Regions from separate parts of the Homo sapiens genome. Here region 1 is linked to region 2. The links come from fine-mapping of genetic effects on plasma protein levels. Region 2 holds a variant in brackets. A gene starts in the other region. All regions are shown on their forward strands.

Region 1 (8,487 bases), not on the chromosome of region 2:
GCTGACGGTCTCTGTCTTGGCACCTACTTTGAGTGTGGGAGTGAAAAGAAATAAAAAGTCTTTTAAAACATTGCCATCCACACAGATGTAATAATAATGAATAGCATAAAAGCTATAGTTACTGAGCGCTTTCTATAATATTTGTAAGAGCCGCTACTGAGGGCTTCACATGATTGGCTCATTTACAAAGGGTATAATTACAAATACTATAATGTCCATGGGCCAAAATATTTAATTCTTCGCAAGTGTGGGAAACTGAGGTAAGAGAAGAGAAGTAGGCTAGGCTGAAGGTTTTGGAGTCTACAAATCCTGATCTCTGAGTTCAAATCCCAGCTCTACCACTTCGTGGCTGTGAGCCTTTGGGCAAGAAAGTCTCCTCTCTGAGCCTCACTTTGCTTATCTGTAAAAATAGGAATAATAAACATCTCCCTAGCATGTTTTACCACTCCTATCAGCCAGTGAAAACCCTGACTGCTTCCTCAATGAGAATAATAGGTTGGTGCAAAAGTAAATGTGGTTTTTCCCATCAAAAGTAACGCCAAAACCCATGATTACTTTTGCACCAACCTAATACATGGTGCAGGGACCAAGTGTTGGGAACAGGCCCCCAAAATCTGGCCATAAACTGGCCCCAAAACTGGCCATAAGCAAAATCTCTGCAGCACTGTGACATGTTTGTGATGGCCATGATACCCACGCTGGAAGTTTGTGGGTTTACCAGAATGAGGGCAAGGAACACCTGGCCCGCCCATGGTGGAAAATCACTTAAAGGCGTTCTTAAACCACAAACAATAACATGAGCAATCTGTGCCTTAAGGATATGCTCCTGCTGCAGATAACTAGCCAGACCCATCCCTTTATTTCAGCCCATCCCTTTGTTTCCCATAAGGAATACTTTTAGTTAATCTATAATCTATAGAAACAATGCTTATCACTGGCTTGCTGTTAATAAATACATGGGTAAATCTCTGTTCGAGGCTCTCAGCTCTGAAGGCTATGAGACCCCTGATTTCCCATTCCACATCTCCATATTTCTGTGTGTGTGTCTTTAATTCCTCTAGCGCCACTGGTTAGGGTCTCCCTGACCGAGCTGGTCTTGGCACCAAGGACCTCATTTCTTATGGGGAAATTGAGGCCTGGAGAAGAAAAACTTCACTAAATTCCCAGAGCTCAGTAGGAAGCTTTATAGTTTAAAAGTTAAGAACGTTTATCTTGAAGTCAGACTGATGTAAGTTCAAGCACTGGTCCTACCACTTCCTGGCTGTGTGACCTCGAACAAGTTACTTAAGCTCTATGAGCCTTAGCTTCCTTATCTGTATTAGGGGACATTAATAATACCTACTTCAAAGATAGTTGTGAGGATTGAATTAATGGAACCAGACAGTTTCAGGGCTTAATCCATAAAGCCTAGTCCTACTACTCACTAGCTGTGCAAATTTGGGCAAGTGGCTTAGTCTCTCTGAGCCTCAATTTTCTCTTTTATAAAATGGAATGATCAATAAATACAATACTTACATCTTGAGTTTGTTGGGAGGATTAAAAAAAGATGAGTATGGACAGTGCCTGACTCATGTCAAGCTCTGATACAATCGAAATGTTAGGAATTCTTTCTTATTTATAAGGACACAGCCAGGTCTTGAATCCATTCATTTACTCAACAAATATTAACTGAGGTCTATTATGGGCTGACCTGTGTCCATAAAAGATATTCCAAAGTCCTAACCCCCAGTACCTCAGAATGTGACCTTCTATTTGGAAATAGGGTCTTTACAGAAGGAACCAATTTGAAACAAAGTCATCAGGGTGAAGTTGCCTAGTGAAGTCACCTAAGCCAACATGACTGGTATCCTTATAGGCACAGAAATTTAGACATAGAATCAGCCATGCACTAAGGGAAGATGATGTGAAGATACAGGGAGAAGACAGTCACGTGATTAAAGTGATGCACCTCCCATCCAAGGAACATGAACAATTACCGGCAAACACAAAGGGCTGGGAGAGACAAGGAAGGACCCTCACCTAGAACCCCTGGAGCAGGCATGGCCCTGCTGACAGCTTGATGTCAGGCTTCCAGCCTCCAGAATTACACAACAATAAACTTCTGGGGTTTTTTGGGGGACATTTTTGTGGTAAAATACTGCATAGCATAAAATTAACCATTTTAACCATTTTTAAGAGTACAGTTCAGTGGCATTGTTATGGGACCATCACCACTATCCATCCCCAGCTTTTCCATCATCCCAAACAGAAACTCTGTACCCATTAAACAATAACTCCCCATTCCCCGCTCCTCCCAGCCCCCAGTAACCTCTATTCTACTTCCAGTCTCCATGAATTTGCCTACCCTAGGTAACTTATGTAAGTGGAATCATACAATATTTGTCCTTTTGTGTCTGGTTTATTTCACTTTGCATAACATTTTCAAACCTCATCATGTTGGAGTCAGAATTTCCTTTCTTTTTAAGGCTGAATAATATTCCATTGTATGGATAGACCACATAGTGTTTATCCATTCATCCGTTGATGGACATTTGGGTGGTTTCCATCTTTCGGCTATTGTGAATAATGCTGCTATGAACATGGGTGTGTAAATATCTCTTCAATTCCCTGCTTTCAATTCTTTGGGGCACGTGCACAGAAGTGGAATGGCTGGCTCATATGGTAATTCTATGTTGGATTTTTTTTTTTTTTTTGAGACAGCCACACTGTTTTCCGTAGTGGCAACACCATTTTACATTCCCAATTTCTGTTGTTTTTAAGCCACTTAGTTTGTGACACTTTATTACAGCAGCCCTGGGATTTATTTTATGTTATTTATTTATTTATTTTCTTTGAGACAGAGTTTTGCTCTTGTTGCCTAGGTTGGAGTGCAATGCCATGATCTTGGCTCACTGCATCCTCTGCCTCGTGGGTTCAAGTGATTCTCCTGCCTCAGCCTCCCGAGTAGCTGGGATTACAGGCATGTGCCACCATGCCCGGCTAATTTTGTATTTTTAGTAGAGACGGGGTTTCTCCATGTTGCTCAGGCAGGTCTCGAGCTCCCAACCTCAGGTGATCCGCCTGGCTTGGCTTCCCAAAGTGCTGGGATTACAGGCGTGAGCCGCTGTGCCCGGCCAGCCCTGGGATTTTAAAACAAGTACCTACTATGCGTCAGGCACTGGGCTCTGGAGATACCATGGTAAACCAGGGGGACAACTTCTTTGCTTTTGTGGTGCTTATCTTCTCATTGGAAAGACAGAAAATAAATGAGTAACAGAATGTTGGGTAGTGATGAGTGCTGCAAAAGGAAAAGCCCAGCTAGGGGGCTGGGGCATGTGTGTGTAGTGTGTGTGCATGCGTGTGCATGCATATGTGCATTAAGAAAATGAGAGACAGGGGAAAGCAGGTATACTTGACCCAGTCTCCAAGCCTCAGATTGGATCAAGACACAGCCTGGGCTGCAAGGAAGGTGTGTGCACTAAAGAAACATGAGTAAAGGCCGGGCGCGGTGGCTCACGCCTGTAATCCCAGCACTTTGGGAGGCCGAGACGGGCGGATAATGAGGTCAGGAGATCGAGACCATCCTGGCTAACACAGTGAAACACCGTCTCTACTAAAAATACAAAAAATTAGCCGGGCGTGTTGGCGGGCGCCTGTAGTCCCAGCTACTAGGGAGGCTGAAGGAGGAGAATGGTGTGAACACGGGAGGCAGAGCTTGCAGTGAGCTGAGATCGTGCCACTGCACTCCAGCCTGGGCGACAGAGCGAGACTCCATCTCAAAAAAAAAAAAAATAGAAAAGAAATGTGAGTAAAGGCTGGGCACCCATGTGGCAGCGATGGGGCCAGTGGTAGGGATCTAAGAGCAACTCACTCTAGGACAGTGGTTAAGAAACAGGCCGGGTGCAGTGGCTCATGCCTGGAATCCCAGCACTTTAGGAGGCCAAGGTGGATGGATTGCCTGAGCTCAGGAGTTTGAGACCACCCTGGGCAACATGTCAAAACCCTGTCTCTAACAAGATACAGCAAAAAAAAGAATTTAGCTGGACCTGGTGGCGCACACCTGTAGTCCCAGCTACTGGTGAGGCTGAGGCAGGAGAATCGCTTGAACCTGGGAGGCAGAGGTTGCAGTGAGCCGAGATCACACCACTGCACTCCAGCCTGGGTGACAGAGTGAGATTCCATCTCAAAAGAAAGAAAGAGAAAGAAAGAAAGAGAGAGAGAGAGGGGGAGAGAGAGAGAGAGAGAGAGAGAGAGGGGAGAGAGAGAGAGAGAGAGAGAGAGAGAGAGAGAGAGAGAGAGAAGAAAGAAAGAAAGAAAGAAAGAAAGAAAGAAAGAAAGAAAGAAAGAAAGAAAGAAAGAGAAAGAAAGAAAGAAAGAAAAGAAAGAGAAACAGCCAGGGGCCTTGAGAATAAAATGCACTCTCCATAATTGGCCTCCCTGGCCCTGCAACATCAGGCCCTGCCCACCTTGGCCACCTGGCACAGGCCCTATTTGTCACATGTCATGCTTTAGCTTTGTTAACCTGTTTTCAGGTCTTCTTGAAATACACCATGCTGGTTCCTTGTATATGGACCCTTTCTGCTTGGAACTGTCCCCCCACCCTGTTCCCAGGCTTCCTCTTCTCCATCCCTGAGGGATGCGCTACCTCCCAGGAGCTTTTCTGAATGGCCTGGGCTGGCGTAGGTCCTCTTCCTGACACTCCCCTGGAACAGAGATTGTCACCAAGTGGATGCCCAACAAATATTTGTTGAATGAATAAATGGGTAGATGAATGAAGCCCAGACTCTGCCAAACCACCCTTCTTTACTTGTTCTTCCCCAGGCCCACTGAGATGTTCCTCTGTCTGCCATGCCTCACGGCCTGACTGACCGTACCAGTGAACCCAGCGTACCCCTGGCCCTGGCAGCCGGACGGCTGATGCATGCAAAGCGGGCATCTCCTTGCCCAGCCGCCTGACCGCCCTGGCGCGGCCGAATCTGAAAGCTAATGACATTATTGTGCAGAGACACAATGTCTGTGGGCATTTGCTGACCCGAGCTTTGGTGAGAGCTTAATCCAGCATTCTCACCCTGCTTTTCGCAGGAGCACAGCGGTCACTCATCTTGGCACCGGCACTTCTGGGGAAGGTATAAATGCCACCTCCCGCTGGCCGAGCTTCACGGCACTCGCAGGGGCTGGTGTCACTGGTAAGATTGCCTCTCTTGCTTGTCTTCCCTTCTTTCTCTCATCCTCACCCCTGTCCGCAAGCATGGGAGCACCCAGATTCTGACAAGTGACTTTGGGCAGAGACTTCAATGCTGTTAGCCTCAGTTTTCTTTTCTGGTAACTGGGAAGGGGGTTAAAAAGCCTTCTTTATTGTAAGGATTCAAGAGAAGTTAGGGGATCATCCAGCACAGTGCCTGGCACACAGTGGGCATTGGGGCAATGTTCTTTATTATTAATATTAAACAGACTATCAGCATCCTTGTTTCGCCAGTCGCTGAGGAGGAGAATGTAACTGAGGGTTTTGCAAGAATCAAACCAGTGACAGTTCAGCATTGTTTCTAGGTGGGTGAGTCAGTTTTCCTCCACATCTGCAATTAGGGGGCACCCACTCTGTGCCTAGCCTCTGGGAGTGCTAGGGGATAGGATGCAGCCACAGGTATGTGACAGGTCCCAGCAACAGGTGATTTCAATGCCACTAAAGCATGGTAGAAATGACTCTAATAATGCCACAATTGCTGCCATTTGCTGCATGCTGAGTGTGTTCTGGGACCACGGCCAAGTGCTTCCGGTTTTATACATTACATAATTGAATCCTCACAACCTGTTCACAGGTATTATTAGACATCATTACTGTCCCCATTTTATAGAACAGGAAGTTGAGGCATAGGGAGAGGATGAGACCTGCCCAGAGTCTCAATTCTGGCAGGCAGCAGAGACTGCTCCTGAACTGGACCAACTGAGCTTCTTCAGTCTGTGAACACTCAGGACTGGGAAGTGATATGGCAGGACCTCAGGCACTCTGACAAGCCCAGAGGGCTGGTTTCTTGCGGGAGAGCAGTAGATTTGGCTGCCAAGGTGCTTAACTGCATTTCTTCCTCCTGGGAAACATCCAGTATTGGCCTTTCATGTGGAAGGGGCTTCTGGAAGCTGGCGTTATCTCTGAAGAGGGAGGCCAGGCTTCCTCTCTTACCCCTGGGGAAACACAGCCTGGTTTGACCACCCCTTCTGCAGGAAGGGGGAAGAGGCTGACAATTTTCCAGGCTTTTCTGATGTTCTCACTAGCTAAGGCAGGTCTACCCTGCTGCCTGCCACAGTGCCTGGATTTCTACCGTCGCACCCATTTCTTCTCTTTCTTGTAATGTGGGTTCTGTATCAGATGATTTCACTAATGGGGGAGTAAAACCAGTGGCAGAGAAGAGAAATCTAGGTACCAGGATGGGGAGAGGAGTCCCAGGGAGAGGGTGGGAGAAGGAGCAGGGGAACAGGGAACTTTGTGAGTTCCTAAACTGGGCACCACCACACCACCAAATACAGCCAATGCATAGGTTTTGTTTGTTCCACACAATTTTATTTAAGAAATTACTGCATAAAGGCAGAAGTTCTGGGATTGACCATTCTATATTCTGTGTGGTATCCATTGTCTGGGGTTGAGTGTTGGGAACCCACTTTGGACCTCATTTAAGCTCTAGTTTATTACTGCTCTCTTTCTTTGAGTAGACCTCGTTTTTCCCTCCTCCTGCAGCTGGCCTGGATAGAAATAAATGAAGCTAAGGACAGAAGTTGAAGTAGCTGCTTACGGACCCCACAGCTCTGGGACAGTCTGAAACCAGGAGAAAAAGAGAATGTTTGGGGCCAGAGGGGAGTGGTCTCAAGGCCCCACAGAGTGAAAAAGCCAGTGGCCCCTCCAGGTCCTCACTGCTGCTTCCCATGTCTTCCAGGTCATTCCTGCACAGGACAGTCCACCATGGCCTCAGATCACCAGACCCAGGCGGGCAAGCCACAGTCCCTCAACCCCAAGGTGGGTACCTCTCAGAGGAGGGGGCATGCAATGCTCCTCCCCCAGACTTAGTTGCCCTTCTGTAAAATGGGCTTGGCATCTTTCTTCATGGGTACCCCCTCTCGACCCCTGCCCCTCTCTGGGACTCAGTCTCCTCTACCCACACAGTTGGAGCTGATACTGAAAGTCCCTCCCCAGCCCATAGCTGGCATGCTGGGATTCCCAGTACCAGCCTCTGGCTTTGGAGACTTCAGTTTCTCTCTCCCTTACCTGTTTTGCCACACCCTATTGTCTACAGGGCTCCCTGAAACTGGAGCAGACCCTCATTCTCAGTCAGAGATGGGATTAGTAGATGGAAGGTGGGTGTGAGTCCTGGCTCTGCACCTGCTGTGTGATCCGGGCCAATTATTTGATCCCTCTGAGCCTCAGTTCCATCTCTATAAAAGGAGGAGTCAGATTTATTGCACAGGGAAGTTGTGAGAGCCAAAGAAACCAGGCTCAGCCTAACACCCGGCCTGGGGTGCGCATCCACCTAACACCAGCAAATAATGCCGCCTTTGATTTCTCATCCACCTGTCCACCCAAGGGCGGCAGGATCTTATCCCAACGTCAGAGGCTTGTCACACCCAGTCTGCCCTCAAACCTCTATCTAGGCACGGCCACCTGACTGCCCTCCTGTGCCTCCCTGCTTTGGTAGCCCCGGGCACAGGTTCCTTCAGGAATGGCCCCTTTGTCTGACTCAGTGCCTCCTGGGCCAGGGAAGCCTGAGCAGATACAGCCCCTCACCTGCTCACCCCAATCTGTCCCTTTTAGGGCTTACTTTCCAGAAGAAGGACAGACAATAAATAAATGAATATATGATTTCCAGTAGTGAGAAGTGCTACAAACAATTGTAAACTAGGGGAAGGGGCTCCTGAGAGTCACAGTGGTTGTGTTAGCTCAGGTGGTCCAGGAGGGTCTCTCTGAGGAGCTGACTTTGAGCAGACACCTGGGTCAAGTGAGGAAGCGGCTATATGAAAATTGGGGGTGCCTTTGCCAGGCCGAGGTGGGAGGACTGTTTGAACCCAAAAGTTTGAGCCCAGCCTGGGCAACATAGTGAGATCCCATCTCCACAGAAAAATGAAAAATGGGGGTCAGGGTTGATGAGAGCATCCAGACAAAAGGAACAGCAGGCGCAAAGACTCCGAGGTGGGAATGAACTGGGTGAGTTTGGAAAAAAGCAAGAAGCTCTGTCCACTAGACCTATAATGTGAGCCACATAGGTAATGCAAAATGTTCTAGTAGCCACATCATAAAAAGTAAAAAGAAATAGGTGAAATTAATTTTCATATTACATTTTATGAAACCCAATATATCCAAAAGATGAGCATGTTAATGTATAATCAATATAAGAATTATTAGGCAGATATTTTACATTATTTTTTCCATTCTGAATTTTCAAAATATGATGTGTATGTTACGCTTATAGCACAGTATAAGTAATAATATGGACTAATTACATGTGCTCAGTAGCCATATGTTACTAA
Region 2 (8,487 bases):
TCACAATTCACGGAAATAATTCAGGTAAAGCAGAGATCACAAATTGGCCGCTCATGGCAGCCTCCAGACAGTTTGGCATTCACAGTGTCTGAAAAAGTAAGCCAACGTTTAAAAACAAATTTAAAATATACTACAGTGGTGAAGTGTCAGGAATGACACAAGGATGCCTGCTGTTATGACTCCAATATTACATTAGTGGCCTGGCCAGAATAATAGAGCAAGAAAAAGAAATAAATAGTATCAGGATTGGAAAGGGTGAGATAATAGCAAGGGTGCTGAAATAATAGCAAGATCAATATATACAAATCTACTATGCTCCTATACTCCAGAAGCAATTAGAAAATGTAAAAAATTGGGACATTTGGGCCAGGCGTGGTGGCTTACACCTGTAATCCCAGAACTCTGGCAGGCTGAGGTGGGTGGATCATGAGGTCAGGAGATTGAGACCAACCTGGCCAACGTGGCAAAACCCTGTCTCTACTAAAAAATACAAAAAATTAGCCGAGCATGGTGGTGCGTGCCTGTAATCCCAGCTACTCAGGAGGCTGAGGCTGGAGAATCACTTGAACTGGGGAGGTGAAGGTTGCAGTGAGCTGAGATCATGCCACTGCACTCCAGCCTGGGCAACGGAGTGAGACTCTGTCTCAAAATAAATAAATAAATATATAAATAAACAAAAAAACTCATTTCCTCTGATAAGTTTTCCTTGGCCAATCTGTGTAACATAGCCCCACCTCCATCATTCTCGAATTCCTTACCCTATTTTATTTTTATACGTCACCCTTGACATTATATTAGACATTTGTTTATTGTCTGTTGTCCTCATTAGAAACAAAAGGTCCACAAAGGCATCGACTTTTGTCTGTTTTGTTCCTGAAGTATCTACAGTGCTTAGACCTTCCCAGGAATTGTTCAATCAATATTTGTCGAATGAATAAACAACAGCACTTTGAGAGAAGAAGGCTCACTTTACCCACCCGCTCCTCTCACCCCAGGGAGACCAGAGAATCTGTCATGTAGACCGAGATATGACTGACCCAGGGTCCTGGGAAGTAATGTCTGATATAAAAGGATATCTTCCTTTGTTCAAAGAGGGAGCAGAGAATATCTGGGCCAAATGACTAAGGCAGGTGGCTTGGAAGTCTCGACAGAGCAGGTGGAAGTCGACAGAGCAGGTGTCCCTGTGGCCCAGGGAACTGGTTGGACTAGTTTTGTCTCCTTTGGGGAGGAAGGAGTGGAGGTGGCAGCTACGGGTGCTCCCAACCCCCAAGGCTGCCAGCAAGTGACCCCCCCACACACAAGGCTTTCAGGGCCTGAAGGGTGGTGATCAGGGAGGTGAGCAGGCTCCATCTAAGGATTGGCAGTGACTTCTTACTAGCTGAGGGTGCCTCAGGTAGGCTTAGGCACAGAACCCAACTTTAGGGCCTTGCGTCCTTTGAAGAATCACAGAGAATAAACAGGCCCAGGGAGAGAAAAGGTCTTGTCCAAAGTCTCATCAAGGCAAGGCTGCTTCCCAGGCCACTGCTACCTCAGTCCACTTATTTATTGATTAAATATTTCTTGAGTACCTATGACGTGCCAAGCATAGTTCTTTGATGATACATCATGAGCAAAACAATCATTTGTGGAGATCCTTTGTGGAGGAAGCAGAAGATAAACAACAAAGTAAATAAGTAAGTTATAGATGTTAGGAGGTGACGAGGACTATAGAGAAGGAAAAAAAGTAGAGGTGAGTAGAGGTTTTGAGAGTTTGGAGGGTGCTGGTGTGTTTGAGGAAGAGTAGAGGGGCCAGTGTGATTGGAGTGAGGCACTGGAAAGGGGGAGGGCAAGGAGGTGACAGGAAAATCATGACATCATGTAGGGACTTGAGGGACATTGAAAGGACTTTGGGTTTTACTTGAGGGACGTGGAGAGCCATTGGAGGATTGTGAGCATTCAGTGACTGGATCCGACATACATATGTATGTCCAGTGTCAAAACATATATATGTGTGTGTGTGTACATATATGTATATATATATGTGTGTGTATATATATATGTCAGATGTCAAAAAAATATATATATATAATTTTTTTTTTCCTGAGACAGAGTCTCTCTCTGTCACCCAGGCTGGAGTGCAGTGGCGTGATCTCAGCTCACTGCAACCTCCAACTCCCAGATTCAAGCGATTCTCGTGCCCCTGCCTCCTGAGACTACAGGTGCATGCCACCATGCCCAGCTAATTTTTGTATTTTTAGTAAAGATAGGGTTTCACCATGTTACCCAGGCTGGTCTTGAACTCCTGGCCTCAAGTGATCCGCCTGCCTCGGCCTCCCAAAATGCTGGGATTATAGGGATGAGCCACTGTGCCCAGCCAAACACATATTTTTTAAAGGATACCTCTGCTTACCATGTAGAGAATGAGCTGGAAGGAATAAAGATGGAGACAGGAAGGCCAATGAGGAAGAGTATTAGGTTCCTCTTGCTTCTGTAATAAAGAATCAGAAACTTAGTGGCTTAAACCAACACAGATCTTATCACTCTGGAGGTCAGAAGTCTGATATGGTTCCCACTGGACTAAAATCAAGTGTTGGCAGGGCTTTGTCCTTCCGGAGGCTCTAGGGGAGAATCTGTTCCATTGTCTTTTCCGGTTTCTAGAAGCCACCTGCATTCCTTGGCTTGTGGCACCTTTCTCCATTCAAAGGCAGAAGGGCAGCATCCTGCCAGTCTCTGACTCTGAAACCTCTTGCTTCTGTTTTGTGATTACATTGAGGCCAGCTGGATAATCCACAATAAGCTCATCATTTCAAACTCCTTAACACTTCTACAAAGTCCATTTAAGGTGAGATTCTGGGGATGAGGACATGGACGTCTTTGAAGGACCATTATCCTGCCCACCAGGAGGCTACTGCAATAGTGCAGGCAAGAGATGATGGTGGCTTTGACCAGAGTAACCGCAATGAAGATGGTAAGAAATGATAGCTTTCTGGATATATTTTGATGATAGAGCCAACAGGATATTCTAAGGGATTGGATGTGGACTTTTCCTTCCTCGTGCAGGTAGACTTCTAGTCTACCTGTGCCTTGGGCCTGCGCCTGGGTGAGGATGAGGGTTTCCCTGGGGTAAAGTCCAGGGAGTCACAGTCATTGACTGGAGCCTGTGTGGCCGTCTAGGGCCTGCTGCATGGCCTGCATGTGGTCAGACAAATGGGTATGGAGTAGGCCCTGTAACCCACCATTAGCACAAGTGTAGGGTCCTTTCTGGTCAACAGTTTCACCCACCTCCCCCTCACTCCTCACTTAACCCCTCAAGTTCTGCTGGGTTGGGCCTTTCCTGCCCCCATCGCTTACTTTGCCCCACTCCCCTGGGAGGTGAGACCTGCTCCCAGGCCCACCACACTTTATTTATTTACCTGTTTGTAGGTGTGAGTGTCTCTCTGTTCATTCATTATTTGCATGTAGGCAGAATAGCACAGTGGCTAAACTGGTTGCCTTTACAGTAAGAATCCCAGCTCTGCCTCCTACAAGTGTGTGATCTTAGGCAAGCTGTCCAACCTCTGTTAATGTATAAAATGGGAACAATAAAGCCTACCTCATATAGTTGTTGTGTGGGCTAAATGAGGTAATGCATGTAAAATCCTCGGCTCAGTGTCTGGCTTAGCATAAAGTGCTGATGAAGATTCTCTGTTATTTTCTCACGGTTCAAGTGCCAACCAGTCCACTCAATAATGGTGTGATCTTCGGCAAGTTATTCAACCTCTCCAAGCTTCTGTTTCCTCAGCTGTAAT[C/T]TGTAACTACCTCATAGAACTATAGTTGGATGATTAAATGAGATAATCTGGCTGGGCGTGATGGCTGACACCTGTAATCCCAGCACTTTGAGAGGCCAAGGGGGGAGAATCAGTTGAGTCCAGCGGTTTAGGACCAGCTTGGGCAACATAGGGAGACCCTGTCTCTACAAAAGATACAAAAATTAGCTGGGTGTGGTGGCACACACCTGTGGTCACAGCTACTCGGGAGGCTGAGGTGGGAGGATCGCTTGAGCCTGGGAGGCAGAGGTTGCAGTGAGCCATGATCGTGCCACTGCACTCCAGCCTGGGTGACAGAGTGAGACCCTGTCTCAAAAAATAAAATAAAATAAAAATAAGTAAATAAATGAGATATTCTATGTAAGCTGTCAGAGTGAGAGCTCCGTGGATGTTAATGATTATTATTCCTGTTGTTATTATTTCATAAATATCTGTTGAATACATACTCTGTGCTAAGGCCTTTGTCTGTGTTGTCACTGAATCATCAGAATGGCCTGGTGAGGAATATAGTGTTATTTCTGTTTCACAGACAGGAAAACCAAGGCAGGTAAAGCACATGGCTGAATGGCAGAGCCCCAATTCTAATCTAGGTCTGTGTGGTAGGCACCAAAACATGTTCCCTCTTCATTACTTCAACGCACTTTTAAAAATTGAGATAAGGGGCCGGGCGCAGTGGCTCACGCCTGTAATCCCAGCACTTTGGGAGGTTGAGGTGGGCAGATCATGAGGTCAGGAGTTTGAGACCAGCCTGGCCAACATGGTGAAACCTGTCTGTACTAAAAATACAAAAATTAGCTGGGCGTGGTGGCGCATGCCTGTAATCTCAGCTACTCAGGAGGCTGAGGCAGGAGAACTGCTTGAACCGGGACCCGGGAGGCGGAGGTTGCAGTGAGCCGAGATCGTGCCATTGCACTCCAGCCTGGGCAACAAGAGTGAAACTCTGTCTCAAAAAAAAAAAAAAAAAAAAATTGAGATAAGGCCGGGCGTGGTGTTTGTAGCCTGTAATCCAAAACTTTGGGAGGCCAAGGTAGGCGGATCTCCTGAGGTCAGGAGTTCGAGACCAGCCTGGCCAAAATGGGGAAACCCTGTCTCCACTGAAAATACAAAAATTAGCCAGGTGTAGTGGTGGGCACTTGAAACTGGGTGGTAGAGGTTGCTGTGAGCCGAGATTGTGCCACTGCACTCCAGCCTGGGCAACAAAGCGAGACTCTTTGTCTCAAACAATAAAAATAAAAATTGAGATAAAATTCACATGACATAAAATTCACCATTTTGGTCGGGTGCGGTGGCTGATGCCTGTAATCCCAGGACTTTGGGATGCTGAGGCGGGCGGATCACCTGAGGTCAGGAGTTTGAGACCACCCTGGCCAACATAGGGAAACCCCATCTCTACTAAAAATGCAAAAAATTAGCCAGGTGTGGTGGCAATACCTGTAATCTCAGCTACTCAGGAGGCTGAGGCAGGATAATTGCTTGAACCTGGGAGGCAGAGGTTGCAGTGAGCCAAGATTGCACCACTCCACTCCAGCCTGGGCAACAGAGTGAGACTCCATCTACCAAAAAAAAAAAAAAAAAAACCTCACCATTTTAACTAAAGTATACAATGCAGCTCTTTTTTATTACATTCACAATATTGTGTAACCATCGCCACAATCTAGTTACATAACATTTTCGTCATCCCAAAAAGAAACCCTGTACCCATTAAGCAGTCATTCTCCTTTTTCCCCCTCTCTGGACCCTGGCAACCACTAATCTGCTTTCTATCTCTATGGATTTGACTATTTTGGACATTTCATATAGGGTCAGCCTGGGTGACAGGGTCTCACTTTGTCACCCAGGCTGGAGTAGAGTGATGAAATCACAGCTCACTGCAGCCTCGAACTCCTGGGCTCAAGTGATCCTTCCACCTTAGCCTCCTGAGTAACTGAGACTACAGGCACACACCACCATGCCCGGCTAATTTTATTTATTATTATTATTATTTTGTATAGCTGGGGTGTCACTATGTTACCTAGGCTGGTCTTGAACTCCTGGGCTCCTGCGATCCTCCTGCCTTGGCCTCCCAACGTGCTGGGATTACAGGCATGAGCCACAGGGCCTGGCCTCATTCCTTTGCATTTGGATACCCAGCTGTCTTAGCACCATTTGTTGAAAAGACTATGCTTCCCCCATTTAATGGTCTTAGCACACTTGTTGAAAATCAATTGACTATAGATGTATAGGTTTATTTTTGTACTCTTGACTCTATTCAATTGATCGATAAACTTCTTTATTGTAGCTTTGCAGTAAGTTTTGAAATCAGGACATGCGAATCTTTCAACTTTATTTTTCTTTTTGAATATTGTTTTGACTATTCAGGGTCTCTTGCGATTCCATATGAGGTGTGGGATAAACTTGTCCATTTCTGCAAAAAATGCAGCTCAGATTTTGAAAGACTTGTATTGAATCTGTTGAGCAATTTGGAGAGTGTTGCTGTCTTAACAATTAAGTCTTCTAATCCATGGACATGGAATGTGTTTCCATTTATTTATGTCTTCCTTGATTTCTTTCAACAAGGTTTGGTACTTTTCAGAGGACAAGCCTTTCCTTTCCGTGGTTAAATTTATTGCTAAATGTTTTATTATTTTTGATGCTATTGTAAATGGAAATGATTCTTAATATCATTTTCATATTGCTCGTTGCTAATGTACAGAAATACAACTGATTTTTGTGTGTTGATATTGTTGAACTTTGCTGAACTCATTTTAGTTCTAATAGCTTTCTGTGTATTCTTTAGGTTTTTCTCTATATGAGATCATGTCATCTACAAATAGAAATAGTTTTACCTCTGCTTTTCCAATCTGGATGCCTTTTATTTATTTTTCTTGCTTAATTGCCCTGGCAAGAACTTTCAGTACAATGTTGATTGGAAGTGATGAGAGTAGGCATCCTTATCTTATTCCTGATCTTAGGGGGAAAGCTTTCGGCCTTTGTCTTCACCATTAAGTGTGATGTTAGCTGTGGGTTTTGCACAGATGCCTTTTACCAGGTTGAGAAGTTCTCTCCTCTTCCTAGTTGGCTGAGTGTTTCAGGTTTTGTTTTTTTGTTTGTTTGTTTTTTGTTTAATCAGGAGAGAATGTTGGATGAACTCTTTTTTACAACTAAAAATCAGCGAAGTCCTCTGTATTTAATTTGGTATAATTATGTGAGACCAAGTTTCATAATTAAGGTTTTATTTCATAATTTTTTTGATTTTTTGGGACAGAGTTTCACTCTTGTTGCCCAGACTGGAGTGTGATGGTGTGATCTCGGCTCACCGCAACCTCCGCCTCCCAGGTTCAAGCAATTCTCCTGCCTCAGCCTCCCGAGTAGCTGGGATTACAGGCATGCACCACCACGCCTGGCTAATTTTGTATTTTTAGTAGAGATGGGGTTTCTCCATGTTGAGGCTGGTCTCAAACTCCTGTCGTCAGGTGATCCGCCCATCTCGGCCTCCCAAAGTGCTGGGATTACAGGCGTGAGCCACCGTGCCCGGCCTCATTTCATAATTAATGTTTTCAAAGAAGGTTACAAATATATGGCTGGGTATCTTTAACCATGTGACTTTAGTCAATTCCTACTTCTTTGGGCCTCAGTTTCCTCAACTGTAAAATGGAGGTGGATAGTAATGCTTACTTCATGGGGCTTAGAGGGATGATGGAGATAAGATGGGATTTTTGTGTGCAAAGGCACTTTGCAAATAAAAACTATTCTTCTGTTGCTGCTCTTATTAGAGATACTTTGTGTGTGTATTTTTGTTGTTGTTGTTCGTTTCTTTTTTGAGACAGGGTCTCCCTCTGTTGCCCAGGCTGGAGTGCATTGGCGTCATCATAGCTCACTGTAGCTTTGAACTCCTGGGCCCAAGCAATTTTTCCACCTCAGCTTCCCAAGTAGCCCAGACTACAGGCTTGCACCACCATGCCTGGCTAATTTTTAAATTTTTTTCTAGAGAAGAGATCTCACTATGTTGCCCAGGATGGTGTTGAACTGTGGCCTCAAGCAATCCTCCCACCTTGGTTTCCCAAAGTGCTGAGATTACAGGCATGAGCTGCCATGCCCAGCTAGAGATGTTATTTATTTATTTATTTATTTATTTACTTATTTACTTATTTTTGAGATGGAGTCTTGCTATGTCGCCCCGGCTGGAGTGCAGTGGCATGATCTCGGCTCACTGCAACCTCCACTTCCTGGGTTCAAGTGATTCTCCTGCCTCAGCCTCCTGAGTGGCTGGGATTACAGGTGTGCACCACCATGCTTGGCTCATTTTCGCATTTTTTAAGTAGACTTGGGGTTTCACCATGTTGGCCAGGCTGGTCTCGAACTCCTGAGCTCAAGTGATCCATCCACCTCGGCCTCTCAAAGTGCTAGGATTACAGGCATGAGCCACCATGCCCAGCCTGGAGATGTTGTTTTAAATTGTAATATAACATGTTTAATAAAGTACATAAGATACATAAAGGGCAATCGTCTTAAGTATAAAAACTGATTAATTTGTATACAGCCATGTGAACACCTCTGGATCCTGCTATTGAACCTGTTAGCACCTTGTAAGGGTCCTCTTCCTGGTCTGTACCTCCCTGGAGGTAACCATTATTCTGATTCCTAACACCATGGATTAGTTTTGCCTGTTTTTGAGCTTCGTATATATGGAGTCATACAAGCTTTTGTATCTGGTTTCTTTCAC

Direction of the effects. Positions count from the first base shown, and alleles are read on the strand shown. Strength reflects both the effect of a copy and how common the allele is.
For the plasma level of the protein whose gene starts at base 5,138 in region 1, T is the high allele of the variant in region 2 and C is the other (strong association).

What was found. PIP is the chance, under the fine-mapping model, that this variant and not a neighbour inherited with it causes the effect. The UK Biobank Pharma Proteomics Project read protein levels with antibody pairs (Olink). The fine-mapping took linkage between variants from a reference panel, not from the people measured, so its PIPs are less certain.
Region 1: CRYBB2 starts here. The variant in region 2 is fine-mapped to the plasma level of the CRYBB2 protein (UK Biobank, PIP 0.99).

Annotation. Positions count from the first base shown.
Region 1 is chr22:25,214,502-25,222,988 of GRCh38, forward strand. It overlaps CRYBB2 (crystallin beta B2), which reads left to right and starts at 5,138. Exons shown (of 6, transcript NM_000496.3): 1 at 5,138-5,165; 2 at 6,903-6,982. The coding sequence starts at 6,929.
Region 2 is chr20:33,795,529-33,804,015 of GRCh38, forward strand. It overlaps ZNF341-AS1 (ZNF341 antisense RNA 1), which reads right to left. Exons shown (of 4, transcript NR_110623.1): 2 at 2,390-2,467; 3 at 1-88. Among named protein-coding and RNA genes, the nearest start is that of ZNF341-AS1, 11 kb to the right of the region's middle. The variant C/T (reference allele first, on the strand shown) is at 3,768.